3 separate regions of the Homo sapiens genome follow, and regions 2 and 3 are each linked to region 1. The links come from fine-mapping of genetic effects on gene expression. A gene starts in region 1. Each other region holds a variant in brackets. All regions are shown on one strand. Distances are between the middles of the regions.

Region 1 (10,334 bases):
GCCCTGCACAAATGCTTGGCACATCCTAGAACCAACAGCCCTTTTCTCCCCAAACACTTGGCCGGGTATGGGTAGGGTGCCACCCCAGGATGGCTGAGCTCAAGGTGGGGTGAGAGACACTCATGCACACATGCATACACTAGCCCTTGAACACACTTGGAGACACAGTGGAAGAAGCAAGAGACACACATGCACACACCCTGAGGTAGGGCCACACAGGACTGCAGCGATGGAACACACAGACACATGTGCACACGCGGGTCCATGTAGGCATAGATATGGTCGCACATGCACACAGACACCTGCATAAAGACAGGCGCATGCACAGCTGTTCCCCCAGAAAGGGCCCTCTGCAGACACAGACCCGGACCCATGCCCACGAGAGACATGCACACACATTCTTTTTTTTTTTTTTTTTTTTTTTTTTGAGGAGTCTTGCTTTGTTGCCCAGGCTGGAGTACAGTGGCACGATCTCATCTCACTGCAACCACTGCCTGACGGGTTCAAACCTCCTGCCTCAGCCTCCTGAGTAGCTGGGATTATAGGCACGCACCATCACGCCCAGCTAATTTTTGTATTTTTAGTAGAGACGGGGTTTGACCATGTTGGCCAGGCTGGCCTCGAACTCCTGACCTCATGATCTGCCAGCCTCAGCCTCCCAAAGTGCTGGGAGTACAGGCGTGAGCCACCACGCCCGGCCCTACACATGTTCTTAAATCTGCACACAGTGGCCAGGCGCGGTGGCTCACGCCTGTAATCCCAACACTTTGGGAGGCCAAGGTGGGCCGATCACCTGAGGTCAGGAGTTCAAGACCAGCCTGGCCAACATGGTGAAACCCCCTTCTCTACTAAAAATACAAAAATTATGGCCAGATACAGTGGCTCACCCCTGTAATCCCAGCACTTTGGGATGCCAAGGCGGGCAGATCACCTGAGGTCAGGAGTTTGAGACCAGCCTGACCAACACGGAGAAACCCCGTCTCTACTAAAAATACAAAATTAGCCGGGCATGGTGGTGCATGCCTTTAATCCCAGCTACTCGGGAGGCTGAGGTGGGAGAATTGCTTGAAACTGGGAGGCAGAGGTTATGGTAAACCGAGATCACACCATTGCACTCCAGCCTGGGCAAAAAGAGTGAAACTCCTCCAAAAAAAATGAAAAGAACAGAACAATTAGCTGGGCATGGTGGTACATGCCTGTAATTCCAGCTACTTGGGAAGCGAGGCAGGAGAATCACTTGAACCCAAGAGAAGGAGGTTGCAGTGAGCTGAGATGGCGCCACTGCACTCCAGCCTGGGCAAGAGTGAGACTCCGTCTCAAAACAAAAACTAACAAAAAAACCTGCACACAGCATATGCACACCAATGGGGATAGGCCCACCCGGATGGGTTCACCTAGACAAGAACAAGTCTGGGGACAAATATGTCCCTCGATAAAGATGTACATAAAAATCATACAGACTTTGGCACACATACATTGCCCGGCTAACTGGGTTGTGAGCTCCTTGGAGGCAGGGAGAGGGAGTCACCCTCAAAGCCATTACTTTGCACACAACAGATGGTTGGTAAAAGTTTGATTAATTAAATGCAGAAATATGCCTGCACACACATGGGAATGCACACATACAACCACCCACCTAGACAGACAGATACACACACACACACACGTACACACACACACATCTGCTCACTCCCCCGCACCAGGAACCTCACAGCCTGGGTCCCCTCCTGCCACCACCTCCACCCTGCCCTGGCCCACTTGGCCTTCCTGTCTGAGGCAACCTCCTCCTCAGCCCACACCCCCAACTTCCTCTCCTGAGGTAACTGCCGCACCCACTCCCACGGAGGCCTCCAACCCAGGGATGCCCCCGCCGCCAGCCCTGCCCTGTTGCCTGGAGCCACAGGGCCCCTCTGTTCTGGCCACACAGTTCTCCCCAGACCAGGCTGGGGTCCCGGCGGTGGAGGCCTAGGCTAGCGCAGCAGCCCATGCTCAGGTACCACAGTGACTCCGGAAAGAAAGCATTTGCCCAGCGCTGAGGGGCATGTAGACGTGGCAAGGGGCCCATGACTTGGTCAGGGCTGTGTCCTGAGCCCACTGGGCGGCCTCTCCTCTCTTCCCCGCCCCTTCCATTGCCACGGCTCCAGGTGGGGCTGAGACCGGCGGAGGCAGCTTGGCGGGCAGGTCCTGGCTTGTGTCCGCCGCCTGCTATGCTCTGTCCCCTCCCAGCTGAGTCAGTGGCCGAGCCCCAGCGATCCCTCTTGACACCCTCAGGAGCAGAAGGCCTCAGCACGGCTGCACGGTGTGCATTCACTCTGTGGATACCTGTGTGCTCCACAACAGCAGTTTCCCTGGACTTCTGTGGCCAACGTGTGAGCCCACGTTCGGCCTCCCCTGTGGATTGGGGTGTGAGCCCACGTTCGGCCTCCCCTGTGGATTGGGGTGTGAGCCCACGTCCCTCTCTGTGCCCTGTTGTGTGGCTGTGTGGGTCCGAGTCTGGTGGGCATGTCTGCGTTGCGTGAGTCTGTGAGCTGTGTAGTTGCTGTGTGTCTTTGTGTCCTGTTGCAGTGTGATGCTGCATGGTGACTATATTGTCTGTGTGGTGTGTTCAGTGACTTTCTAGGTGACAGCGCCGTGTGGGGTGTGTACAGTATGCATTGTGCATTTCCTCCTGTGCTGTATGTGTGACTGGGCTGTGTGCTGTGGGGTGTCCCCTGGTGCCTTGGGGGCCACCAGGTGTGTGTGTCTGAGTGTGGATGGAGGCCGGGGGGACGTTCGGCAGAACTGAGCCTATTTCTGTCCTTCAGGCCTGCCTGAGCTGGGCCATGGGCATCAGCCCAGCGTCCTCAGCAGTGCCCCCTCCCTGAAGTCCCCTCTCCTACCAACCAGAGGCAGAATCTCCTACCAGAGTTAGGTAGGAGTTTGGTCTTCTCTGCTGTTTTGACACGGTGGGACAGACCCATTGGTCAAGAGGAGGGTCTGTCCATCTGTCCAGCTGTTCCAGTTCCAGACATGTGCCCACCTCCCCCAACCCCAAGGTGCTGGAGGGTGCTCAGGATACCAGGTGGCAGTGCCTGCGTCTCTGGACCCTGGCAGGGGACCCTGGCACCGACACGTGTTACCTGTAGGGGTCCAGTATGGGAGGACACCTTCGCAGGTGGCTCCAGCTCCCCTGGCAGCCGAGTTTCAGGGACCGGGAGAAGAGCCGTGAGGGAAGAAGGCTGACTCAACAGGCAGCCCAGCCAGCAGCTGCCCCACACGGAGGAGGAGGAAACACCTCGGCAGGGCCTGATGCAAAACCGGGCCTGGACTCCCAGCGCCCGGGGGTGCGCCCCCGCAGCCGACTGGAGAGGCCCAGCTTGGCCCCAGCTCCACTGAGCAGGCCCTCTAGAACGGGTAGCAGCCCCACCTTGCCCACAACGGGGCTGATAGGAACTCGCTTTGAAAGCAAGTTAGAAACCTTTCTTTTCCAGCCCCAAGGGGAATGGCAGGATGGCAGACTTTGCAGTTAGACCACCCTGTGCAGAGTCCCTGCTCTGCCAGTGGGTGTGTGATGTGACCTTAAGCAGGTCTCTTCCATTTCTTCTGATGCAAACTGTGGGTAGCAGAGTGCAAGGAGCCTATACTAAGGGAAGTGAAAGTGCCCGGTGCGAGCTGGCATAGTCGGGGTGAGGTGTCCCCACTCCAGCATAGCCTAATGCCCACGGCCATCTCAGCAGCTGCTGCCCTCTATATCCACATGCACTTCTGGGACATGCTGGCAGAGCAGCCCTCTCTGTCCCCTCTGCTGTCCTGAGCCCCATCTGTTTGAGGAGGCCTGAACTCTTCTAGTGCCAAGGTGAGGGTCCCACACCCTCTGTCTATGTGGAGCCCCCCTGAACTCACCCCATTCTACACCTAGATTCTGCCCACCCTGAGATTAGAAGGTTTGGGCCCTAGATTACATTGGCTTCAGGACCATGAACCTCCTGGGTTGTCTTGGGCACAAGAGGCCACACCAAAGCTTTCTGACTCCCCCCAAGTCCACTTCACTTCCCATGGCCTGCCCTGGCCCAACCCCCTCCCCTGAACCTAGGGCCATGGATTAAAGATTAGTGGGCTCCTCATAGACCCCTGGGAGAGGCAGGACAAGGGGTGGATTCTAAACAAAACCAGTCTGGGCACAGTGACTCATGCCTGTAATCCCAGTACTTTAAGAGGTCGAGGTGGGCGGATCACTCTAGGACAGGAGTTTGAGACCAGTCTGGCTAATATAGTGAAACCCCGTCTCTACTCAAAATACAAAAATTAACCGGGCATGGTGGCAGGTGCTTGCAGTCCCAGTTACTCGGGAGGCCGAGGCAGGAGAATCGCTTGAACCCAGGAGGCGGAGGTTGCAGTGAGCCGAGATCGCACCACTGCACTCCAGCCTGGGCAACACAGCGAGACTCCGTCTCAGAAAAGCAAACAAGGCTGGGCGTGGTAGCTTACACCTGTAATCCCAGCACTTTGGGAGGCCGAGACGGGTGGATCACGAGGTCAGGAGATCAAGACCATCCTGGCTAACACGGTGAAAACCCATCTCTACTAAAAATACAAAAAAAATTAGCTGGGCGTGGTGGCGGCTGCCTGTAGTCCCAGCTATTTCCCGAGTAGCTGAGGCAGGAGAATGGCATGAACCTGGGAGGTGGAGCTTGCAGTGAGCCGAGATCGCACCACTGCACTCCAGCCTGGGCGACAGAGCGAGACTCCGTCACAAAAAAAAAAAGAAAAGAAAAGAAAAGAAAACTAAACACCCACTCTTCCTTCCTGTAATCAGAACCGACTCCCACCACCACTGAGAGACAGAGGACCCTCCTCCACCTCAGAACCACAGTGGAGGCTTCCCTACTTATTTTTTGCAAATTAATCTTATTTTTCTCATCTGTTAAATGGGGGTAATCTCTCCTTAGAGGGTTTTCACTAAAATTCAGTGAGATCCTTGCAGACTTTTTTTTTTCTTTTTTTTAGATGGAGTCTTGCTCTGTCGCCCAGGCTGGCTTGGCTCACTGCAGCCTCCGCCTCCTGGGTTCAAGTGATTCTCATGCCTCAGCCTCCCGAGTAGCTGGCACTACAGGCGCCCGCCACCACGCCTGGCTAATTTTTGTATTTTGAGTAGAGATGGGGTTTCACCATGTTGGACAGGCTGGGCTCGAACTCCTGGTCTCATGTGATCTGCCTGCCTCAGCCTCCCAAAGTGCTAGGACTACAGGCGTGAGCCACCTTGCCCAGACCCCAGTACTCTTGATTAATGCATTTATGCACCCACACATGCAATACCCATGGAGCAGCTGCTGTGGGACCATTACTGTGATGCTGCCTCCTTCATTAAGGCCCTCAAAATGGAAGGAGAGTGGCCAAGAACATCCACACCCCTTCCTGCCATCCTGGTCCTGGCGCCCCCAAGGATGTTTCTCTGCCCTCCTCTCACCTCCTTAGCAGCTCTTCCTCCTGGAAGGCATGAAACTTCATTATCTGGTCTTCGGGTTTCTAAATTTCCCTTCCTTTCTCTGCTCTCCTGTCCTTCCTATAGCTGTGACTCCCTGACGCTGATACTTCCAGCCATCTCTCCTGCTGTGTCTCAACCTGCATTCCTCTGGCCTCTTCCCCACTTGAAACCTATTTCCAAGTTTCCACCTCTGTAACCAGCCCCCATCATCCTGGCCCCTGGCCTCCTGCTGCTTCCTGCCACCTCCAGATGCTGTCCACACTTCACTCCAGGTGCCCTCCCATCTGTGTGTCTCTGCTGTCCTCCCCCTGCCCAGGTCTCAGTCCCCGCTCAGCCTCTTCTGGAAGCCTCCTCTTCTCCTGCCTCCTTGCGGCCACACAAGGCCACTCTGGCCCTATGTTGCACAACTTTCAAACGTACTTTTCTTTGTCATCCTCTGGTTTGGAAGGTGCCAGCAGACAGCCAGGCCATCCCTCGGGCCCATTCATACATTTCTAAACCAGTCCAGTCCCCTTTAGACACGTCCTGAGATGGAAGTCTCACCACTTCCCAGGACAGCCTGGCCCTCAGCCTGACCCTCAGGATTGCTGCCCTTACTCTGGCTTTCTCCCCTTCGTCACCTATACCCGTAGAGCCTTAGCTGTGGGCTATTTCCTGTCCTTCAACACCCCTGGGCCTTCTGTGCTCCCTGTGGGAATACTTTTCCCCAGCTCCAGGACTAGCTCAGCCTCCTCCAGAGTTCAGTGCCCCTGCGCTGCAGCCAGTCTCTAGGCAACATCCCTCTGTTAAGAGGGACATTAAGAGGCAGGGTCCTAGAGGCCAGCAGATCTGGGTTAAAATCTGGCTCTGCCGCATGGTTCCCTGTGGCCTGGGATCAATGACAATCCCTGTAAGCCTCACTCTCTTCCTTTATGAAGTGGGGACAATAGCCATCTCACAGGCCTGCTGCTGTCAGGAGAGCTTGTTTTTCACCTCCGCGGCCATTCTCCTTTCGCATCACAGCACCTCTCATTTCCACTCCTGTGCTCCAGTGAGGCCATCGCACAGGGTGGCTCTGAGTGGGGGCTCTGGAGCCCAGCTGCTGGGTTTGAACCATAGTTCCACTCTTCCTACCTCTGTGACCCGGAGCAAATCACTACTTCTCTGCTTACTTCTTCATCTGTAAAATGGGATGATGGCACTTACCTTGTTGCAGGGCTGTTGTGAGGCTAAGATGGTATTTTATTACAAGGCCTAGCACAGAGTAAGCACTCGCTAACTGTTGGTGACTTTTTTTTTTTTTTTTTAAGAGACGGGGCCTTAGGCCGGGCATGGTGACTCACACCTGCAATCCCAGCACTTTGGGAGGCCGAGGCAGGCGGATCATGAGGTCAGGAGTTTGAGACCAGCCTGGCCAACATGACGAAACCTTGTCTCTACTGAAAATACAAAAATTAGCCGGGCATGGTGGCAGGCGCCTGTAATCCCAGCTACTCGGGAGGCTGAGGCAGGAGAATCGCTTGAATCCGGGAGGCGGAGGTTGCAGTGAGCTGAGATCATGCCATTGCATTCCAGCCTGGGTGACAAGAGCAAGACTCCATCTCAAAAAAAAAAAAAAAAACAAAACAAAAAAAAAGAGAGAGAGAGAGGGAGAGACGGGGTCTTGCTCTGTCACCCTTGACCTCCTGAGCTCAAGCTATCCTCCCATTTCAGTCTCTTGAGTAGTAGCTGGGGCTGCAGGTACGCACCATCATGCCCAGCTAATTTTATTTTTTAATTTTTTGTAGAGATGGGGTCTCACTTTGTTGCCGAGGCTGGTCTCAAACTCTTGGGCTCCCTCCCTCCTCCAGCCTTGGCCTCCCAAAGTGCTGGACACTGTGGCTGACCCTGTTGGTGACTTCTATGGCACAATTTTATGTCCTGTTTCCCCCAGGCAAATTTTAAATTCTGCTAGGCTAACGCAGGCCTTAAGCCTTTTTTCTATCTATTCTACTGTGGCTGTCTTTGGTTTATTTTTTAATTTTTATTTTTGAGACGGAGGCTTGCTCTGTCACCCAGGCTGGAGTGCAGTGGCGCGATCTCGGCTCACTGCAAGCTCCGCCTCCCGGGTTCATGCCACTCTCCTGCCTCAGCCTCCCAAGTAGCTGGGACTACAGGTGCACGCCACCATGCCCGGCTAAGTGCTTGTATTTTTATTAGAGACGGGGTTTCACCGTGTTAGCCAGGATGGTCTCGCTCTCCTGACCTCGTGATCCGCCTGCCTCAGCCTCCCAAAGTGCTGGGATTACAGGCGTGAGCCACCGCAACCGGCCTGTCTTCAGTATTGAATTTGTCCCCCCTCAACCAACTCTCGGATGGACCCAATATGCAAAACAGGTTTTTGAAAATGGAATTGCTGGGGCCAGGCGTAATGGCTTATGCCTGTAATCCCAGCACTTTGGGAGGCTGAGGCGGGTGGGTCACCTGAGGAGTTCGAGATCAGCCTGGCCAACATGGTAAAACCCCGTCTCTCCTAAAAATACAAATATTAGCCCAGCGTGGTGGCGGGCACCTGTAATCCCAGCTATTTGGGAGGCCGAGGCACGAGAATTACTTGAACTCAGGAGGCAGGCGTTATAGTGAGCTGAGATCGTGCCATTGCACTCCAGCTTGGGCAACGGAGTGATTCTGTCTCCAAAAAATAAATAAATAAGAAAGAAAGAAAAAAAAGAAAAGTAAATGGAACTGCTCTGAAGTGGGGAGAGGTCACCTCTGCCTTGCCCTGGAGAAGTCCCAGGCTTGCAGACCACAGCACTGCAGGGTCTGGGGTGAGCTGGCAGATGCCTGACCAGGGACCCCATGGCCAGCTGCTAGAGCATGTCCTCAAGGCCACGTTCAAGACCAAATCCTTGGCTAGTTCAACTGAAGTGATGCATGGACAGGGTTGGGAAAGGCTTCAGGGAGGAAGCGGCTTTTAAGCTGGGCCTTGGTTAGGCAGGGCCGCCATGAGAGGGATGGTGGAGAGCAAAGGATCGGAGGCAAGCGAAGGCTGGATGGATACAGTGACCAGAGGCTGGCAGTGCTCTTGGCTCATCCCCAACTCTGTACCCCGGCGGGTGGTGGGGACAGCAGTGGAGGCTCTACTCAGCCCTAACCCCAAGCCTACAAGTCCTTCCCAACAGGGACGATGGAAGGGGTTTCAATGCCCACCTGCCTCAAGAGGAAAGCTTTGGAATGGGGAATGGAGAATGGCAGGGAATCCCCAGACTTCAGGGGCGGGATATACCTGAGGGATGCTGATGGCCCCAGGCACTGGACGCAGACTCAACCATGGTGCTGGCAACTAGACCCTTGTCAAGGGTAATAGGGTCCCAAGAATACCAAGACGCTATGAGCTAAGGGGCAAGGGGGCCCCAGAGAGGGAGAAAACAATGACAGGGCACCAACTGGAGTCAAAACTCTTTATTGTCCTGCCCAGGGAGCCCTTCCCAAAGGAATCCACAGAGCAGGGGGGCGAGGCGGGCGGCACAGGGCCTTGGTGACAACGTGAAGGGGGAGCTGGAGTTAGGTGGGGGACAGCCCCTTCAGCTCCCTGATGGCACTGGCTGTGCTGGCAGGCCACCCAGGGGAGCCATCACCAGCATGAGGTCCACACCTGGGGCTGGGGCTGAGTGCTGTCTACACTGCTCTGTCTACACGGTTACTCTGGCACTTGTCAGGTCCACTCACCTCTCTGGCCTCAAACTGCAGGGGGAGATGGGTCCAATGCTGGGAGGCACTGGGAGGCCGTGGAACAGTGAAGAGCGGACTGCACGGGCTGGAGGATGCCAGATGGGCACACATGTCCCCCAGGGCAGCTGCCGGCAGGAGTCTGACAAAGGGACCCAGCCAGCCCCTCTGGACCATTCTAGAGGCCAGTGGTGAAGGTCCTGAAGCAACTTGGCTTATAGAGACACGTTAAGTGTACCCGGTGCACCCCATGCTGGGACCAGCTCTGGTCCCAGGGCCACCTTGACAGGTGAGCCCAAATGTCCTCCTCTCCCCATACTGGGCACTGGGCTGAGGCAGGACCCCAGCAGGTGGTGGCGGGAGCAGCTCTACAGCGGGAAGCCAAAGCCTTTCAACAGAAGAACAAAGGGGCTTCCAGGGCCGGAGTCACAGGCCTGGGGAGGAGGGGACAGGGTGCTTCTGAGAGGCAGGGAGACAACAAACCCCCACTTCATGCTGGTCCTCAGTCCTTCCATCCTGCCAGCCCCGACCCCCGGTCCACAACAGCAGGCCCAACCCTGCCTTTTGGGGTGAGGAGAAAAAAATCTGGAACCAAAAGGGATGGCGGCTGTTTCCTCGGGACCCTGGTGGGTGTGGGGCCACCGAGCAGCCATCACCGGAGGTTAAAGACCAGGCTGACGGTGAGGATGATGCCCAGGAGAAGGATGAAGGGCAGCCAGGTCTTCACGAAGGCCCCAACGCTGACAGAGAGAAAGGAGCGAGCATAGGTGGGCAGGGCCTGGTGAGCAGGCATGCGGCCCGCAGCCCTGAGCACCCACAGACCCCAATAGGGCTGCCATCCCTAAGGAAAACCCAACCACCCCCTCACCCCAAACTTGGCCAATCAAGGAAGCAGGCTGGGCATGGTTGCCCACTATGGGGGATCACCAGCTATGGTCCCGGGCAGGGGCTGCTCCGCGCTCCTGGTGATTTACTGACACCTCGCTGGTTGGGAACAGGAAACATGCTCCCCATTTCTAGGCCTCACTGGCTCCATCTATAGCCACCTACCTCTAGGGTCTCCAGCAAGAGGACCAGGAATTGCAGTTTGGGTATGGAAGCCACGTGTGCCCTCTGCCTATGGACTTCATAATGGGGACTACTGGGAGCTCTGGGGCTGGCAAGGGTCAGCAGTGTTGTGGCT
Region 2 (10,334 bases), 180 kb before region 1:
GCCTGCCCTCTTTGCTTCAGCTCCCACCTGAAGTCCAACGGAGAAAGAGTGGGAGAGCAGATCTCAGGGTTGCAGGCTGTGGGGCTGGGGAAAGTTGCTGAACACACACACACATACACACACACACACACACACACACACACACACACAATGCCTGAGGCCTTCCACACAGAAATGGTGGGAGATTAGGAAAAGCAGAGGCAGATTCCAACCCACATGGAAAACACCAACATACAGAGGGACACGTGGCCCTACAGACCTGCAAAATCAAACTGACCTAGGCACGCAACACAGGCACGGAGGTACCGCAGACATAATGACAACCAGGAAGACAGACACACAGACACACAGAAACATGGTAATTGAAACACTGACACACAGATGCACCTACATACACCTCCATACACAGAACAAACAGGCACTGACCTTCTGACAGAGACACACACCCGAGCACATTGACACACAAACAGAAACCCCCCATGGTGACATCAGCAACTCCCACATGAATGCAGAGTCCATCCCTGCTAGTATCTGCAGGCCTGCACAATGAAAGGCAGAAACCCACATACACAGTCATCCATGTGCACACACAAGAACACAGAGAAGGTCGGGTGTGGTGGCTCACGCCTGTAATCCCAGCACTTTGGGAGGCCGAGGCGGGCAGATCACCTGAGGTCAGGAGATCGAGACCATCCTGGCTAACATGATGAAACCCTCTTGCTACTAAAAATACAAAAAATTAGCCGGGTGTGGTGGCACACGCCTGTAGTCCCAGCTACTCGGGAGGTGTCAGAGCGAGACTCCGTCCCCCCCTCCAAAGAAAAAAAGAACACAGAGAAACATACAATACACTCAACTTGTACCGATTGACCACAGTGCCCAAGGCAGGCAGTCGCTGACACCACTGATGCAGGCAGGAGCCCGACATGTGGAGAGGCACAGGTCCCCAGAGGACCACGGGCCCTGACATGTCCCACCTGCACCCACACAAGTACCCATAGCACAAACACGTGCCTGCCTAGGGTGTGGTGTGGGCAGAGCTGAGACTCCTCCCTACCCACAAGCTCATCATCACAGCAGATCTGCCCTGGGGTCAGAGGGCCCTAGTGGCCCCAGAACCAGAGCCCAGTGAAGCCCTGTCTGGCCTGGGCTGCATCCGTAACCCTCAGGCTTAGGGAGGAGACAGCACCAGCCTTTTCCCTGGGAGCCCCTGGCCTGAAGGAGACAGAGCTCTGTCCCCTGGAGTCCCTGGATGGGCAGAAGAGGCACAGACCTGCTCTGTGGAGCTCCAGTCTGATGGGGGCCATATCTCCTTGCCAGGTAGACAGACACACAGACACACACAGCTCCTGGGGGGTTCTTGAGGGCTTCCTGAAAGAGGTGAGCCTGAAGCCTGGCTTTGGAGCCCAAGAGGAAAGGGGGAAGGGTGTGTACGAAGGAGGGCCTCCCTTCCTTCCCCTGTGCCCCGCCCCCTCATCCAGCAGTTCCTCCTCCCCGCAGGGCCCAAGGGGCCGGCTGGGGCCCCACAGTCCCATCAGCCCAAGCAGTGAGCAGAAGGAGGAGAGCAGATATTTTTAGCTTCTCTGCCACTGACATTTCGCAGCAGGCGACCTGGGGTGAAGCTGAGTGAGTGCTGAAGGCTGGGAGAAGCCGACAGCGCCTTCCCACCCCCATGTACAAGCACACACAACTGTGCATGCACACAGTTGTGTGCAATGCTCACAGACGTGGCCCAGCTTCAGGTACACAGTCACACGCCTAGACACACATGCACCTGTGCACGTACTTGGTTCATAGGCCACTTATGCTAGAAACCTCACACACTCAAGACACAAAAAATTTATCCATTCACACACCCAGACACACACGCACGATTCATACACCTAACACACTTCCCACACCCTGCCAAGCATGCACACTTTCATTCATCATTCATTGGAGAAATATGTATACAGTGCCTACTAAGTGTTGGGCCCTATTCTGGACACTAGGAATAGATTAGCAAAATAGTTAGCAAAATAGATAAAAATTTCAGTCCTAATAGAGTTTACATTCTGACAGGGGAAGTTTGACAATAAACAAAAAATAAAAAATAAAGTATAGCCTTAAGAACCACAAATATAGGCCAGGCACGGTGGCTCGCACCTGTGATCGCAGCCCTTTGGGAGGTCGAGGTGGACAGATCACTTGAGGCCAGGAGTTCAAGACCAGCCTGGGCAACATGGCAAAACCCCGTCTCTACTAAAAATACAAAAATTAGCCAGGCGTGGTGGCACACACCTGTGATCCCAGCTACTCGGGAGGCTGAGACACGAGAATTGCTTGAACTCAGGAGGCAGAGGTTGCAGTGAGCCGGGATCCTGACACTACACTCCAGCCTGGGTGACAAGAGTGAAACTCCATCCAAAAAGAACGACACATATAACCTAATCCCCCAAAATACACAACCGCACATGTGAACAGCTTCCTAATATTCACTGCTCCACAAATACACACAACTGCACACACAACCTACAGGCAAGACTCATACAGGTAACTCCACACATATACCTCAAGACAATTACAAACATGTATACACATCCACACTTATATGCAGTTACACATTTAACATGTAAATACTTAAGCAATTCAAACACATGGTACATATTCATCCAGACACACACACACACACACACACACACACACACACCACACACAATTGTACAGAGCTATACAGTTCACCTGCCTACATACACAGGATACAGCCTCCCCAAGAACATGTAAGGCAGGTTCACACAAATCCTTCCACACATAGACAACCACTCCCTGCCGGTCATAGACACACATTCCTGCAGTCCTTCCCCTCCCCACTGAAATCCCAGCTTGTCTGCCACTGGGTCATGTATGTTCATAGGTGTCCACACAGAGTCCTAGCGTACTCGCAACCTCACGCACACTCTCAACAACCCTGCTGCAAAGAGACCACACACACTAAGTCAACGCATGCCCAGGTTCATGCCCCCTAGGTACCTGCAATCCCCTCCCTCCTTTTCCCATGAGGGCAGTTCGGTCACTGCACCCCACACCTGCACCCCGAATACTGACCCCAGGACTCCAACCCAGCTGCCCCCAGGGTTTGGGGGTTGGGCCCAGACCCTACAGGAGCCCTGGGGTCCTCTCCCCAAGGCCCCAAGAGGCAGGACTCAGAGTCTCTGAGCTCAGAGCTCGCCCCTGTGCCCAGGCTGGAGGTGGAGGTAAAGGGCAGCCTGGGCTTCTCAGCTCTGCCGCCAGTGCCCTCCCCTTGCTCTTCTCTCCTCCTTCCTCTCGTCTCAAATTCCTTTCGTTCTGTTTCTCTGTCTCCCCATCCCACCCCTATCTCTCCAATAGCCCTTGGCCAAAAACCAAGCCCTCTTCTCTTCCGTATTCTGCCAGAGGGTATTGAAGCCCTGTGACAAACAGATGGACTAACAGGCAGACAGACATATCACTTGGGCAACAAAAGCAACACAAAAAAGAGGTCGTTGTCATATCCCGAAGACCTGGGAGGAAGAAAAGATAAATGGACCAAGGGAAAGATAAGACTAAGTGGCCCATGGGCCAACATGCACAGCTAGGAGAAGGAGCCCTGGATTCCAGTCCTGGTTCTGCTGTGTGACCCTGGATCAGCTGCTGCTCCTCTCTGGGTCTTTTCTGCCTCTGTACAAACAGGGAGTTGCGGTAGGTGTTTTTTTGAGGCAACAGGACTCTCAAAGACACTGCAGCAGTTGTATAAACAGGGAGAGGAGCTGGGGGCCTTGAGGGCCTGGTTAGAGCCATAAAAGCCCCTCCCCAGAGGCTCTCCACAGCCTCTTCCCCGCCCTAGGCCTGGGCTCCAGTCTGGGTTGAAGCACCAGAGGCCAACAGCACCCCCTGCCCCCAACATGCATAAACACATGTGCTCCTCCGAGACTCAGCTACTTCCTTTGCCCTCTCTGGACCTCAGTGTCCAGGCTTGTGCATTTAGGGGCTCAGGTTTGGGCTCTGTGCCTATGAGCCAGTCTATGTGTGCACTGTCTGTCTGTCTGTCCGTCTGCCAGCAGCCTTCAGGCGCCAGGAGGGGAGGCAGCAGTGGAAGGTGGGGGCAGGGAAGGAGGTAGCGTTGACAAGTTCCAATGTCTGGCTTTCCCTCCTGGAAACCCCGAGCTGGGGCTGGCCCCCCCTTCCCTTCCTGTCTCTCTCGCTCAAGCACGTCCCTTCTAAGAGCCCCTCTCTGCAGACGCCCCCAGTGGAACCAAGCCCAGATTCGCTGCCAAGAAGGCCGACATTTCTTAGACTTGCCACGTTAAAGGGGCCTGCACAGGCACGCACTCAAATCCCCCCCTCCATGTCCTCCGCCTGTGCACATTCAGGCAACCCGAAACACACAAAGACACGGTTGGACACAGCGGCCACCTGTGCACACAGGAGGTAGCACATGGAGCGCATCTGACCCCGGGCTCACAGACAAGTACAAACATAGCCATGGACTCCCTCCGCCCTCCTCCATTCAGCCTGCCACAGACCCAAGCACGCAGTTTCCAGCGCACCGTGCTCACAGACACGCACAAACGCAGTCACACGCAGGGCCTTGCCACATAGAGAAACAAGTGCAAACCTGTAGCACAGCACCGTCACCATCACCACCACCGCCGCCGCCACCGCCCTGTGTAAATGCAACCACAGAAACACAATGCCTGTGCTGCCTGTTCCCTGTACACACAGCCAAGCATATACAGTCACACAGTGTTCCCCTGAGTCACTCTCAACAACCACACAGACAAAGTCTGTTGGGCACAGAGGCGCCCATACCCATCCTCTGGACATTTGGACTAGCCCACACCACCAGTACTGTGCCTTCCTGGGCACAAGACATGCACAAAATCCCAGCCACCTGCAGAGTTCCCTTCTGCACACACACTGTCCCTTGCACATACACAGACAAGCTCAAACCCACAGTTATGCTGTTATCCTCTTGTACACCATAAAATCACAGGGGCTCCCAACACACCCAGATGTGACATACACAAACTCAGGCACATGTACCGACTCTTTTGTGCATACAAAGATTTATTGGCACTGACGTGGTGCCCATCTGCTACCATGTGCACACACTGCTAGATCTCGCACGTCTCTGTACACAGGCCTGCGTTCAAACTCAGGGCATACAGCTTTCCCTTGTGCTTACACAAACACACAGTGGCCCCCGATGTCGGCACAAACCCACACACATAGCATCATCACCTGTGCACATTGAGGCAAACACAGACTCACAAACCACCCCAACGTGCTCTTCCATGCACACACATATGTGTGCATGCTCCCACAGACAGACCCAGCTATCGGAACCTCATTCTCAGACACTGCAGTCCCCTGGCCCCCAACCCCAGCTTCCTGCCTCCTTCCCTTGGCCGGCGAGGGTGGGGAAGGGCTGGGAAGGCTGGGGGCTGGCTCAGCCCTTGTTCCCTCCCTCCACCGGCTGGCTCGCTCCCTCCTGTCTGGCAGAGTCAGCCAGCCAGCCCAGCCCCGGCTCCGGCAGCCCTGACTGCTCTGGGCAAACTCTCGGCGGGTTGGTCTCGGCTGATGCCGCATCAGCAGCAGCAGCAGCAGGGGCGAGAAGGCTGAGGGTGGATGCCAACGTGGCAGACGGCAGGCAGGGCGGCAGGAAGGAAGCTGGGCCCGTTCTGCGCCCACTCACTGGGGGAGACAAAACCAAGGGGGCTGGATGAGCAAGCGAGGCAGCTGGGCAGGGGACCTCGTGCACAGCCTGGCTCTGGGCCCACACTGGCCCCAGACTCACGGAGTGACCTTGGGGAACTTGCTCCCCTTCTCTGGCTCTATTTGCCCCTTCAGCAAGTGGATAG[T/A]ATGGACTGGACACTCCTCCAGGTCCAAATCCTTGCATCCAATTCAGTGCTCTGTGGCCTCGGGCTAGTCCCTTCCCCTCTGGAATCTTAGCCTTTCAGCCCAACAATAAAAATTCTTCACCTCTGTATGGCTACAACTATTGATAAAAGGTTTTCAATCTACAAAATTAGCACCATTTTATAAATAAGAAAACTAAGGTTCAGAGAGGTCAAACAATCCACCCAAGGTTACCCAGCAAGAGAGTGACAGAGCTGGAACAAGACCTCAGGGCTTCTGCTTTAGTCTCCAAAATCAGTACTGCCTCCCTTCTCTTCCAGCCATCCCATGCCCCAACTCACCCTTCAGGGTTGTCTGCCCACACCACCTCCCAGCCCTGGGCCCCACTAGAGCCACCTGGCTCTGCCCTGGGGAGTCAGGGTGCAAAGGCCAGACAGGCCTCCCACCAGCATTCCAGCTGCCACTGGGAACACAGCTGTCAGCAGGGCCGGGAGAGCCAAAAGCCGCCTCCCCAGCAGGCCCGCATAATTGGTACATTGTCAGCTCAAAAACAGAACTGCTATGGGATCTTGGGCTCTCCAGGCCTCAGTTTCTTCATCTGGCTGGCTGTCGTGGAAAGGAGGAGATGATCTCCAAGGGCCTTTTCAGCTTGGAGTGTTGCCTAAGGAGTGACCGAGGGAGGAGGCAGCTGTGCCAAGGTCCCCAGCCAGCCATGGGTGTGCCTCAGGTGTCCAGAGCCCTGGAATTGGGTCTCTGCCTCACCTTTAGTTTGGGGTGGGATCTGCATCCTCTCTGAGGTCCCGCAAAAGGGAAGGGCTTGGAGAGAGTTTGCAGGCCGGATGGATAGACACACAGATGGAGGAACAAAGGTCTGAAGGAGAGAAGGAAAGAAAGTCTTCAACCTGCACTGAAGGAGGGTGCAAAGGCAGAAGACCGAGGGAGGCCCCCATGCCCTTCCTTTGTTTCTTTCGCCACCCTCTCCTGAGGCTCACTCTGCCCAACCCCACAGGGCTCAGTCTGTGGGAAGGACAAATGTGGGACAGTCACAGGCAGGTGCAGCATGCTGTGGGATGAGCCCGGGGACTGTGGAGGAGGCCCTGCTGGTTTGTGGGGGTGAAGAAGATTCTGGGGGAGGCATCACAGGTAATGAGCTCAGGTTTCCAGGAAGAGGAAGAGTTAGCCTGTATGTGCAATGATTACCCCCATTTTACAGATGGGGAAATCAATGCTTAGAGGTAGAGAAACAGAGTCAGGCCTTGCACCCAAGCCTGCTTGACGGCAAAACCAGTGTTTTTTGTGCTATGCCATGCTGCCTCCCGAAGGAGTGCGTTGCTAACGGTGGCATTTCAGATGTAGTGACAGTGCACCGGGAAGAGGTTCTGGACAGATGGTTCCCAACTGGGCCCCTGCCTCAGGCTAGCAGAGCAGAGGGTTGTCAGGGCAGGCAAAGCACGCCCTCCTCCACTCTGCTAGTGTGTGGGCTGTGGGCAGGTCCCCGCTCCACTCCTCACCATCCCCCTCCAGCCCTTTGGCCTTGCCTGGGTGACCTGCATGAGCTCAGCTTCCCAGCAGCCCTGCAGAGGAGTCAGCCTGGGCAGAGGCTGCCTCTGCCCTCTCGCTGCTTGGCAGTGCCAGGGGAGGCGGGGCCACGGAGGGGTTGGGGAGACGTCCAGCCACCAGACCTCCGGTCCTGTCCCCCAGGTCTGGTGCCCCTGAGGTCTTCTGCAGAGGGCCAGGCTGGGACAGGTAGTGTGGAGCTGGGCACGCTGGTCAGGCCCGTCCCTGTCGCTGCAGCCTTGTTGAGCTGCCATTAACAAGTGGCCGGAGGTTGCCGTGTCTCCATGGAGACCAGACAGTTAGTGCGGCTCCGGGGTGAGGGCCGTGATTAGTGAGTGTCAGCTTTGCCAGCCCTGCTCTTCCCACCGCCCGCCTGCCGCTGGGCTCAGAGACAACAGGCCTGGCAGGGGGATGGGGAAGGACTGGGAGGGGGCTCAGGGCCCTCACAGGCAGGGGGGCTCCCAGGCCCAGCCCCAAGTGCTATGTCTTTGTCTCCCCCAGTGGCTCCTCAATTCCCCCTCCTCTAGTCTCCCGCGTTCCCTCCCCAATCCATCTTCCACACAGCGACCAGGGTGAGCTTTCTAATACGAGCTGCATCCTGACACTGCCTTCCTTTAGAACTTTCCATGGATCCCCGTCTCCTGGAGGCTAAGAGTCAAATTCTTTATCATGGCATTCAAAGAATTCATTCATTCATTCATCACTCATTCATTCAACAAATATTTTTTGAGCACCTACTATGTGCCAGGGAGCCTGCCAGGTATACATGGTCAATAAAACCAGCGAGATCCCTGCCTTCATGGAACTTCCAATCTAGTGAGGAAGACACACTGAGAATAAAATACAAGTCAACGGATACACGATTACAATCATGAGAGTTGGGAGGAAGTGGAGAGAGTGCATTGGTAGAGAATAATTTGTAGGGGAGGCAGCCGAGTTAGAGTGGTCAAGGTGGCAGCATTTGGACAGTCACAGACATTGCTGAGGATCCATCAGTGTGCACAGCATCCCAGAAGGGAAGAATACTCCAAGGAACGGCCTGGGCCAGGGCCCCAGTCTCCTACCAAGGTAAGGCTCCGCCCTGCCCCTCTGCCCTGGCCTACTCCTCCCTCCCTCCCTCCAACCCCCTCCTCCATGGCTCCTATCTTGGTTAGAGGCACAGGGCTTACCCAGGTGAAAAAAAAAACACCTCTGAGTCATCACCAACTCCTTCTTCTCTCCCTGTGTTCTCCTCTCATGATTCCTGGGTCCCGTCAATTCTATCGTGTCTCTTCTCTCCTCGCTGCCACCGCAGACCCTGTCACTTTCACTCAAACTATCACACCTGCCCCAACAGGCTTAGCCATTCATTCGTTCCCTACCGATCATGGATTGAGGCTCCAGGCATTATGCCTTAGGGCCTTGTGGATACAGCAGTGAGCAGTGCCACACAGTCCCTGCCCTTGGCCAGAGTCCAGTCGACGAGGCAGGCAGGTGGGCAGGTCTGCAAGCACAGAGGAGGAGTAAGTAGGAGCATCTAATCTGGACTGGGAGGGGTGTCTAGTAGAGCTTCCGGGTGGAAGTGCTGGCTAAACTGAGACCTGAAGGTGGGCAAGGAGTTAGCCAGGCAAAGTCAAGGGAAAGATACTCTAAGCAGAGGCAAGAGCACGTGGGAAGGCAGGAAGTCAGAGAGGTCCGAGCCTGAGCTAGGGCTGGTGAGGAGCGTGCTCAGATCTGCTCCCCGACAGCCAGGCTCTCCTCGTACAGCTCACGCTCCACACTGCGGCTAGAATCACCTTTCTAAAATAGGCGCAATAAGGCCAGGCACCGTGGCTCACGCCTGTAATCCCAACACTTTGAGAGGCCGTGGAGGGTAGATCACGAGGTCAGGAGATCGAGACCCAGCCTGCCCCACACGGCAAAACCCCGTCTCTACTAAAGATACAAAAAAATTAGGTGGGCGTGGTAGTGCATGCCTATAATCCCAGCTACTTGGGAGGCTGAGGCAGGAGAATCGCTTGAAGCTGGGAGGAGGAGGTTGCAGTGAGCAGACTGCACCACTGCACTCCAGCCTGGGCAACAGGGCAAGACTCCATCTCTAAATAAATAAATAATAAAAATAAAATAGGTATAATCCTGTCCCTTCCCAGCCCTTAAACTCCTGCTCTGTTTCCCCAGTCCTTTAAAGTCTGCCCTCAATAGCAAGGCACTGGAGGCCCTCAAAACTGCCTTTCGAACCTCATTTCCTACCACTCCTCTCAGCCAACTCTGTGTTCAGCCACACCCAAACAGGTCATATCCTTCCATATCCCTGGGCCTTTGTCCACAAAATACATTCCTCCTGGAATGCCCTCTGCCACTTTTCCGGGTGAACTCTTCATCCTTCAGAGCCCAACACAGATGTTCCTTTTCTCTAAGAAGCCTCTCTGGACCCCCACCTCCCCAACAAAAATGAGTTTCTCTTCTATGCCCCATTACAATTCATTTTTATTTATTTATTTTTTGAAACAGAGTCTTGCTCTGTTGCCCAGGCTGGAGTACAGTGGTGGGATCTCGGCTCACTGCAACCACTGCCTCCCAGGTTCAAGCAATTCTCCTGCCTCGGCCTCCTGAGTAGCTGGGATTACAGGTGCACTCCGCCATGCCTGGCTAATTTTTGCATTTTTAGTAGAGACGAGGTTTCGTCATGTTGCCCAGGCTGGGCTCGAACTCCTGACCTCAGGTAATCCGCCCGCCTTGGCCTCCCAAAGTGCTGGAATTATAGGCGTGAGCCACTGTGCCCAGCCTATGCCCCATTACATTTAATTCCAGATAGCTAATACTCACTGAATGCTTCTTTCTATGTGCTAGGCTTTACATAAGCATTCCATGTTCGTGATCATATTTAACCTTCATGGTTATATTATTAGAAAGTGTCATCACTCCCATTTTGCTCATGTGAA
Region 3 (10,334 bases), 55 kb after region 1:
GACAAAAAAGTAAACCAATAAGTAAAAATAAAATAAGGCCAGGTGTGGTAGCTCACACCAGCAATCATAGCACTGTGGGAGGCCGAGGTGGGAGGATCACTTGAGCCCAGGAGTTTGAGACCTGCCTGGGCAACACAGAGAAACCCCATCTCTACAAAAAAAATAGAAAAATTAGCCAAGCATGGTGGAGCGTGTCTGTAGTCCCAGGTATTCAGGAGGCTGAGGTGGGAGAATCGCCTGAGCCCAGGAAGTCAAGGCTGCAGTGAGCCATGATCACGCCACTGCACTCCAACCTCGGCAATAGAATGGAGTGAGACCCTGTCTCAGAAAATAAATTAATTAGCTCCCTCTCCCTCTCCCCCTCCCCCTCCCCACGGTCTCCCTCTCCCTCTCCCCACGGTCTCCCTCTCCCTCTCTTTCCACGGTCTCCCTCTCCCTCTCTTTCCACGGTCTCTCTCTGATGCCGAGCCGAAGCTGGACTGTACTGCTGCCATCTCGGCTCACTGCAATCTCCCTGCCTGATTCTCCTGCCTCAGCCTGCCGAGTGCCTGCGATTGCAGGCGCGTGCCGCCACGCCTGACTGGTTTTCGTATTTTTTTGGTGGAGACGGGGTTTCGCTGTGTTGGCCGGGCCGGTCTCCAGCTCCTAACCGCGAGTGATCCGCCAGCCTCGGCCTCCCGAGGTGCCGGGATTGCAGACGGAGTCTCGTTCACTCAGTGCTCAATGGTGCCCAGGCTGGAGTGCAGTGGCGTGATCTCGGCTTGCTACAACCTCCACCTCCCAGCCGCCTGCCTTGGCCTCCCAAAGTGCCGAGATTGCAGCCTCTGCCTGGCCGCCATCCCGTCTGGGAAGTGAGGAGCGTCTCTGCCTGGCCGCCCATCGTCTGGGATGTGAGGAGCCCCTCTGCCTGGCTGCCCAGTCTGGAAAGTGAGGAGCGTCTCTGCCCGGCCGCCATCCCATCTAGGAAGTGAGGAGCGTCTCTGCCCGGCCGCCCATCGTCTGAGATGTGAGGAGCGCCTCTGCCCGGCCGCGACCCCGTCTGGGAGGTGAAGAGCGTCTCTGCCCAGCCGCCCCGTCTGAGAAGTGAGGAGACCCTCTGCCTGGCAACCACCCCGTCTGAGAACTGAGGAGCCCCTCTGCCCGGCAGCCGCCCCGTCTGAGAAGTGAGGAGCCTCTCCGCCCGGCAACCACCCCGTCTGGGAAGTGAGGAGCCCCTCTGCCCGGCCAGCCGCCCCGTCCGGGAGGTGAGGGGCGCCTCTGCCCGGCCGCCCCTACTGGGAAGTGAGGAGCCCCTCTGCCCAGCCAGCCGCCCCGTCCAGGAGGGAGGTGGGGGGGTCAGCCCCCTGCCCGGCCAGCCGCCCCGTCCGGGAGGGAGGTGGGGGGGTCAGCCCCCCGCCCAGCCAGCCGCCCCGTCCGGGAGGGAGGTGGGGGGGGGGTCAGCCCCCCGCCCGGCCAGCCGCCCCGTCCGGGAGGTGAGGGGTGCCTCTGCCCGGCCACCCCTACTGGGAAGTGAGGAGCCCCTCTGCCTGGCCACCACCCCGTCTGGGAGGTGTACCCAACAGCTCATTGAGAACGGGCCAGGATGACAATGGCGGTTTTGTGGAATAGAAAGGGGGGAAAGGTGGGGAAAAGATTGAGAAATCGGATGGTTGCCGTGTCTGTGTAGAAAGAAGTAGACATGGGAGACTTTTCATTTTGTTCTGTACTAAGAAAAATTCTTCTGCCTTGGGATCCTGTTGATCTGTGACCTTACCCCCAACCCTGTGCTCTCTGAAACATGTGCTGTGTCCACTCAGGGTTAAATGGATTAAGGGCGGTGCAAGATGTGCTTTGTTAAACAGATGCTTGAAGGCAGCATGCTCATTAAGAGTCATCACCACTCCCTAATCTCAAGTACCCAGGGACACAAACACTGCAGAGGGCCGCAGGGTCCTCTGCCTAGGAAAACCAGAGACCTTTGTTCACTTGTTAATCTGCTGACCTTCCCTCCACTATTGTCATATGACCCTGCCAAATCCCCCTCTGCGAGAAACACCCAAGAATGATCAATAAAAAAAAAAATAAATAAATAAAAATTAATTAATTAATAAAAATAACTACAGGTGGCAATTAGAGTTACAGAGGATATAATTGTTAAAACAAGCATAACGTCTGTCTACTTTAGACAGGATGGTCAGAGAAGGTGCTTCTGAAGAGGTAACTGAAGCTGATCTCCTTAGGATAAGAAAGAGTCCGACATGGGAAGAGCTGGGGACAGAGAATCTCAAGTAGAGGAAAGAGTAACGTGAATGCCCAGAGGCAGTAGAGACCCTGGACACCTGAGGTGGTGAGAAAAAGCTTGTGGGCCTAGAGGTAGTACAAAGGAGGGCAAAGAGGGAGGAAGGTGAGGGCGGAGTAAGCAAATGTTCCCAGTGGAGTTTGTACACAGACAACTGCCCTGGGCAGACAAAGGAGGTTGGACCTCTGCTGGAGGGAAAGAGCTAGGTCTGTAGAAGGAAACACTATAGGATGATGGGATGGGGGAGCGACAGGCTCCACTAGATGCCCCAGACTCTTACCGGATAAGCCCATCCTCAGCAGCACTCCAGAATGTGTTGGGCCACATGGGCGCTGTGGCGATGCGCTTCACCCGGTTTGTGTGGTCTCCAAACATGTGGATGGTCTCCTTTACTGTCAGGTCGTGCACATGCACCTTAGAGTCGGCTGCCCCCGTGATCAAGATGCGGTCCCCAGCGTGAGGCAGGAACTATATAGGAGAAATGGAGGAAGGGGTGGGTGGTAAGAGTAGAAATGGCCACGGAAGGAGGCTAGCCTGGATGTCTGCACCCTTTTCTCTCTCCATGTCAGATAAGAGAATGAGCCCATGCAGGCTGGGCGCGGTGGCTCATGCCTGTAATCCCAGCTGCTCAGCAGGCTGAGGCAGGAAAATCCCTTGAACCCAGGAGGCAGAGGCTGCAGGAAGCCAGAGGCTGCAGTGAGCCGAGATTGTGCCACTGCACTCCAGCCTGGGCAACAGAGCGAGACTGTCTCAAAAACAACAACAACAACAAAAAACAAAACAAACCCTTGAGGTTCAGCAGTAATATACAGCAAGATTGTGTTCAAGCCCAAGTCTGTCTGACTCCCACATGCCCTACTTGCCTCATTATGACTACTTAGTAACCTAGAGATTAAGTAATAAATTAGTCCTGAAGTGAAAAAGACTTTGAGTGTTTAAGGGAATGGGTGTGTGTGGGTTTTTTTTGTTTTTTTTTTTTGAGACAGCGTCTCGCTCTGTCACCCAGGCTGGAGTGCAGTGGTGCAATCTCGGCTCACTGCAACTTCCACCTCCCGGGTTCAAGCGATTCTCCTGTGTCAGCCTCCTGAGTAGCTGGGATTACAGGTGTGCACCACCACGCCCAGCTAATTTTTGTATTTTTAGTAGAGACAGGGTTTCACCATGTTGGCCAGGCTGGTCTCGAACTCCTGACCTCAGGTGATCCACCTGCCTTGGCCTCCCAAAGTGCTGGGATTGTAGGCATGAGCCAGAATGCCCTGTTGGGAGTGAGTGTTTTAAATTAGTTTGACTGCTTCTGAAAAACAATCTGGTAATAGTAACAAAGATTAAAAACAATTTCTAGTTTTTGACTCAAAACTTCCACTTCCAAGAAATAATCCAGGCCAGGCGTGGTGGCTCATGCCTATAATCCCAGCACTTTGGGAGGCTGAGGCGGGCAGATCACAAGGTCAGGAGATCCAGACCATCCTGGCTAACACGGTGAAACCCCGTCTCTACTAAAAATATAAAAAAATTAGCCGGGCGTGCGCCTGTAGTCCCAGCTACTCGGGAGGCTGAGGCAGGAGGATGGTGTGAACCCAGGAGGCAGAGCTTGCAGTGAGCTGAGATCACGCCACTGCACTCCAGCCTGGGCAACAGAGCGAGACTCCATCTCAAAAAAAAAAAAAAAAAAAAGGAAATAATCCAAAAAGAAAAAAGGGACCTGGTCAGAAATGCTTGGATGCCTCTTATAATAGCAAATATTGGAAACAGCTCAAATGTTGGACAATAGGGAAGGGCTGAGCATCAAGAGGATACATCTCTATGCAGTATTTATTAAAAAAAAAAACAAAAAAAACCGGCCAGGTGCCGTGGCTCACACCTGTAATCCCAACACTTTGGGGGGCCGAGGTAGGCGGATTACCTGAGGTCAGGAGTTTGAGACCACCCTGGCCAACATGGTGAAACCCCGTCTTTACTACAAAAAAAATTAGCCGGATGTGGTGGTGTGCACCTGTAATCCCAGCTGCTCGGAAGGTTGAAGCAGGAGAATCACTTGAAGCCGGGAGGTGGAGGTTGCAGTGAGCTGAGATGGCATCACTGCACTCCAGCATGGGTGACAGAGCAAACAAGACTCCATCTCAAAAAAAAAAAAAAAAAAAAA[AAC/C]CACCATCCTGATAAAGGCAAGAACAAAATACTCCAGATGACATCTGATAAGAAAAAAACAGCTGCAACCATAGCTTCAAATAATGAAAAAAGAAAGTATGCAGTTCTGGGCTGGGCGCTGTGGCTCGCACCTGTAATCCCAGCACTTTGGGAGGCGGAGGCAGGTGGATCACCTGAGGTCGGGAATTCAAGATCAGCCTTACCAACATGGAGAAACCCTGTCTCTACTAAAAATACAAAAAATTAGCCGGGTGTGGTGGTGTATGCCTGTAGTCCCAGCTACTCGGGAGGCTGAGGCAGCGGTGAGCCGAGATCTTGCCACTGTACTCCAGCCTGGGCAACAAGAGCGAGACTCTGTCTCAAAAAAAAAAAAAGAAAAGAAACAAGAAAGAAAGTATGTAGTTCTATCACATAACTTTGAGGATAAAAAATATTTGGGAGTGGTGTTGAATTCTCGTGTGAGTTCAAAAAATTGAAATATCTTTTTTTTAAAATTGAAAAGTTCCTCCCTACCCACAACAAGGCTGAGTGGTAGTGTTGGGGGAGGGGCAATGTCCTACACTGAAACAGCTGATGTCCCACTTGACTTTAAATGTTCACAAAGAACAACAATTCACTCTTTCCACATAGGCTTCTCTAAGGGCCATTAGAACAAGGTCTAGCCAGGCACTGTGGCTCATGCCTGTAATCCCAACACTTTGGGAGGCTTAGGTGGGTGGATAACCTGAGGTCAGGAGTTCGAAACTGGCCTGGCCAACATGGTGAAACCCTATCTCTACTAAAAATACAAAAATCTGCCAGGTGTGGTGGTGCACACCTGTAATCCCAGCTACTTAGGAGGCTGAGGCACAAGAATCGCTTGAACCCAGAGGCGGAGGTTGCAGTGAGCCAAGATTGTGCCAACTGCACTCCAGCCTGGGCGACATTCAGAGTAAGACTCACCCTCAAAAAAAAAAAAAAAAAAAAAAGACCAAGGTCTAGATGAAATAGACATGATTTAATTATTTTAGGGACAACCAGTAGTCTTTAATCCTGTCTAGAGACGGCATACACTCAATGCACAGCAGAAATAAACTGGGGAGCCCTTGTCATGATCTTGTGGCTGCTGCCACACGCATCACACACCATAGTCACCACCAGGGGGAGCGCATGAGTTAAATACATATACATCTGCAGTGTTTCCACTACCTAAAGAAAGAAGAATCCTTTTCAGGTTGTTTTTTTTTTTTTAAATAGAAGAGGAGGCTGACAGTCTGCATGTAAGTGCCGTTCCCAAGGTCTTACCGTTAGGGAGTATCAAGACCATTATGAAATTCTGGTGTTAGAAATCAATGTCTTGTGCTCTGATGCTAAACTAATGGCTTAGGTCCCCTTCCCCAGGCCTGACTGTGCAGACTAAAATTGGACCTAAACTCTTTGCAGGGGAAGAAAGCAGTTTCCGTTAGTCATATAAGAGGTAAATCATCATTGTTCTGTCTCTAAAGGCGAGAATCATAGCTTGAGAAGAAAAAAGGGTTTAGGAAAACAAGTAGGTTTGGAGCTATCATCTTGTTCAGGTATCTTGTAATTCCTCTTGATATTAATTACGAAAATATTTCTTAGAATAGTGAGGGTTTCCGAAGGACAACTTCATTCTCACATCTATCCATTATAGAATCTCAGAGCTGGAAAGGCCCTTCCTTGCAGGCCATTTCTTCCAACTTTAAATCTTGGAGATAAAGCACCTGGCGAGTGGACAAGTGCAGGGATAGGACATTTACTCATCTCCTCCAGGGGCCCATTCTACATTTTTCAAAGAGCTCTAAGCATTAGACAGTTCTTTCTTTCCTCAGGCCCACATTTAATTCTGTGGACTTACAGCCACTAGTCCTAGGTCTGTTTTCCACAACAAAAAAACATGTCTCATGTCATTTCCAGGGCTTCAACAGAGCTTCAAAGGTCTGAAGACACTTGTAAGTCCCCTTCTCACCTCTCCTCCGCTCAACTCCCCTCCTCCAACAAATCAAAATATTCATTTCCTATGAAGGGGTAGAACAGATAAAAAGCACTGGGCACAGACTTTATTTTTATCAATTATCTCATTGAACTGTCACATCAACCTTGTAGACTGTTATTTCCTTTTAAAAAAATTAATTTGTTTACAAATCTGGGAGATTTTCCTTCGCTGCTTCCTTTTTTACAGATGAGCAAACAGGCTCAGACAGGTCAGGTGATTTGCCCAGGTCACACAATGCCCAAGAAGCAGATAAGGGAGTCAAACCCAGGTATGCCTGCTCTCTAAGTTCACGTTCAGAACCATACCCCCACCACTACCATTCACATAAAGATAAATTCATCTAGAATTGGCCGCTTAGCTCTAAAAGAGGAAGAAGAACATGGAAGAGAAATGAGGTTTCAGGAATCACCAACAGATACTTAGATCATAAGGTTGTCTGTGACCCTAGACGGTATATGGGACACACACATACCAACATGGCGTGGCCACAGCCCAGTCACTCTTGTGCTTGATCTGTGGCTTGTGCTTGCTCTGTGGCTTGTCCTGCTCACCTTGACAGAGAAGATATTTGCGGTGTGTCCCGTGTGCATGGAGAGCAGCTTCTTGTGGTGCAGCGGGTCCCACACAATCGTGTGCTGGTCATCGGAACCAGAGGCCAGCAAGCTGAAAGCAGAGTGAGGGATTGTGATCTCTCCTCAAATTCCTAGGCTCCCTTTCCCCATCCCATGTTCTCAGTTTACAAGGAGTTAGGTTACAGAATTTGAAGAACAGTAAATGTCACAGAATTTAAGGTTGCCTTGTAAACAGCTGATTCTCTTCTATTTTGTCCTGAGAAATTTCCATTATTCTTTTTTTTTTTTTTGAAATGGAGTCTCGCTCTGTCCCCCAGGCTGGAAGTGCAGTGGCGCGATCTCGGCTCACTGCAAGCTCCGCCTCCCAGGTTCACGCCATTCTCCTGCCTCAGCCTCCTGAGTAGCTGGGACTACAGGCGCCCGCCACCACACCCGGCTAATTTTTTGTTTTTTTGTAGAGACGGGGTTTCACTGTGTTAGGCAGGATGGTCTCAATCTCCTGACCTCGTGATCCACCCGCCTCGGCCTCCCAAAGTGCTAGGATTACAGGCGTGAGCCACTACGCCCGGCCAAGAAATTTCTATCATTCTTAAACACATTGGCTTATTAAAAAAACAGGGTTTTGGGCCGGGCGCGGTAGTTCATGCCTGTAATCCTAGCACTTTGGGAGGCTGAGGCAGGTGGATTGCCTGAGCTCAGGAGTTTGAGACCAGCCTGGGCAACATGGCAAAACCTCGTCTCTACTAAAAATACAAAAAATTAGCCAGGCATGGTGGCGCATGCCTGTAGTCCCAGTTACTTGGGAGGCTGATTAAGGAGAACCGCTTGAACCTGAAAGGCGGAGGTTGCAGTGAGCCAAGATCACGCCATTGCACTCCAGCCTGGGTGACAGAATGAGACTCTGTCTCTAAAACAAAACAAAACAAAACAAAACAGGGTTTGGATGGTCATCCAACTTTCCATCTATCTGAGATTGTTTAATTGTGTTGAAAATTATGGGCTAAGCTGAAGAACGGCAGACAGCAGCAGTCTCTTTTCATTTGGGTCCAATCTTTTCCTTGGATCCTCTCAGGAGGAGCCTTGCTGTTCCACCCTCCTTACTTCCTTCCCCAGCACCCTTCAGGTGCTCTAGCTCATACTTACTCTCCTTTCTCATTCCACTCCAGACAGTTGACACATCCTGAGTGACCCTGGGGGAGCAAATGAAGAGACAGGAAGAGAGTTGGTTAGGGGTTCTCCTGGGGAACTCAACACCAAGAAGTGGAACTGAACAGGTAAACCAGTCTTTCCATTTTCAATATTTTCCAAGTGCATGTGAGTGGCCAAAGTGGACTTAAACTGACTAGCGTCTTACAATATATAAAGTACTTTCATATTCATGATCTCACTTGATACTGGGCACTTCTGAGCCATAAAGGACAAGTTTCATTGATCCCGTTTTGCAGAAAAGTAAACTGAAGTTCAGACAGTAGAAAGCAGTAAAAGTGAGATCCAAACACATTTCTGCTTTTACCATTAGAAGGAGTATGTCAGCCAGGCACAGAGGCTCACACCTGTAATCCTAGTGCTTTGGGAGGCTGCCCAATCTGCTTTGGGCAGATTGCTTGAGCTCAGGAGTTGTAATCAACCTGGGCAACACGGCGAAACCCCATCTCTACAAAAAACACAAAAATTAGTTGGGTGTGGTGGCATGTGCCTGTAGTCCAAGCTACTCGGGAGGCTGAGGTTGGGAGGATGACTTGAGCCTGGGAGGTGGAGGTTGGAGTGAGCTGAGATCGCACCACTGCACTCCAGCCTGGGCGACAGAGCCAGACCGTGTCTCAAACAAAACAAAACAAAAACAGAAAAAGAGATATGTCTGAAACAGTACCTTCAAGGGATACCCTCTCAGTCACAGAAAATTTGCCAGGAAACATTCAATCCAAGGACAGCCAATTAACTAGAAGGCTAATCTTTTATTCACCCAGCATTTTTTTTTTTTTTTTTTTTGAGACAGAGTCAGGCTGGAGTGCAGTGGCATGATCTCAGCTCACTGCAACCTCCGCCTCCTGGGTTCATGCCATTCTCCTGCCTCAGCCTCCTGAGTGGCTGAGACTACAGGCGCCCGCCAACACGCCAGGCTAATTTTTTGTATTTTTAGTAGAGACAGAGGTTTCACCGTGTTAGCCAGGATGGTCTCGACCTCATGATCCGCCCGCCTCGGCCTCCCAAAGTGCTAGGATTACAGGCGTGAGCCACCGCGCCCAGCCTCACACGGCAAATTATTCATCAAGCACCTACTGCATGCCAGGTACTGTTCAGATGCTGGGGGTACAGGAGTATAAAAAACTCCTTGGATCTTCCAGAGCTTAATTCAAATAGGTAGAGCCTGGTGCAGTAAGGTAAATTAGGTCAGAGTCTTTATCTTGGGGATTTGAAAAAAAAGAGAGAGAGACTCTGTCTCAAAAATAAAATAAAATAAAATAAAAATAAGAAAAAGAAAAAGGAGAGAGATACCAAACAAACCCAGAAAAAAACAGGAATGTCAGGCTTTAGGAAGAGGCTTAAAGGATCTTTGAGAACATTTTCTGACTTTCAGGCAAAGCCTGTGATCCAGTTTGTGTAGCTACACATAAGGACCCTCTCTTAACTACAACCCAGTGAGATTCATCATATACACATTTAACGTACCTGCTGACTTCAGGCCTAAACCCTTGTGTAATGAGGCTCAACCTAAAGGGTCAATGTCAAAGAGCATGAAAGTTACAGATATTTAATGAAGCCTCCACAAAAAATGCCAACTAGGAAAGACAGGAAGCAGACAGCCAAGTGCTTCTCTCTAACTTCTTAAAAAACAGCATGAATGAGTCTGAACAAGCAAGATTTAGATTAAAATCCAGCAAAATTAACAGAACACTTACTAAATGCCAGGGTAGATGCTAAGCTTTCACTTTTGTCAATTTATTTAAGCTTCACAATACACATACTTATTACCATGTATTAAGGTTATGTAGGTGCAATATTTTAACAGAATGGAGTAAGTTCTGACAGCAAATAAAACTTTAAAAAATTCCTCACTCACTCTCCATTGACTTAATGATATGTTGTCTTAAAGTCAGAATGATTTGAATATCCAGACATTTCCATAAAATCTTTTCTTTTGTTCCTTCTTTAATCCAGCTCAATGTTTTCTCAAATTTTAGTGTGCCTAAGAATTACTTATATGGAGTAGTAATAATTATAAGAATAGGTAAACTTAGCTTACTATGTGTCAGGCCCTGTCCTAAGTACTTCACATAATTACCCTTGAAAATCCATTAAGTTGTCCATAAAATACAACAAATATCATTTTATGTGTACAAGC

Which allele goes with the higher level. Alleles are on the strand shown, and positions count from the first base shown. SD is a standard deviation of normalised expression in the study named. Not every link is listed here.
In carriers of allele C in region 3, the expression in monocytes of the gene that starts at base 3,248 in region 1 tends to be lower than with AAC alone (moderate effect, 0.62 SD a copy in Fairfax 2014).

The links. PIP is the estimated chance that this variant, and not a neighbour inherited with it, causes the effect. A credible set is the group of variants that fine-mapping cannot tell apart.
Region 2: its variant is the best candidate, but not a certain one, in a credible set for the expression of SYTL1 in whole blood (INTERVAL, PIP 0.67).
Region 3: its variant is the best candidate, but not a certain one, in a credible set for the expression of SYTL1 in monocytes (Fairfax 2014, PIP 0.73).

The regions. Positions count from the first base shown.
Region 1 is chr1:27,334,936-27,345,269 of GRCh38, reverse strand. It overlaps SYTL1 (synaptotagmin like 1), which reads right to left and starts at 3,248. Exons shown (of 15, transcript NM_001193308.2): 1 at 3,120-3,248. It overlaps TMEM222 (transmembrane protein 222), which reads right to left. Exons shown (of 6, transcript NM_032125.3): 6 at 8,870-9,891. The coding sequence ends at 9,804. RefSeq lists enhancers at 1,908-1,997, 1,996-2,613, 2,788-2,837, 3,368-3,627.
Region 2 is chr1:27,516,825-27,527,158 of GRCh38, reverse strand. It overlaps LOC105376892 (a long non-coding RNA gene), which reads right to left and starts at 4,672. Exons shown (of 2, transcript NR_188658.1): 1 at 4,613-4,672. RefSeq lists enhancers at 1,201-1,290, 1,219-1,857, 3,769-4,351. The variant T/A (reference allele first, on the strand shown) is at 5,859.
Region 3 is chr1:27,280,086-27,290,419 of GRCh38, reverse strand. WDTC1 (WD and tetratricopeptide repeats 1) reads right to left here. Exons shown (of 16, transcript NM_001276252.2): 4 at 8,135-8,181; 5 at 6,971-7,082; 6 at 2,559-2,746. Among named protein-coding and RNA genes, the nearest start is that of TMEM222, 37 kb to the left of the region's middle. RefSeq lists enhancers at 195-1,180, 2,854-3,496 and a silencer at 5,556-5,635. The variant AAC/C (reference allele first, on the strand shown) is at 4,422.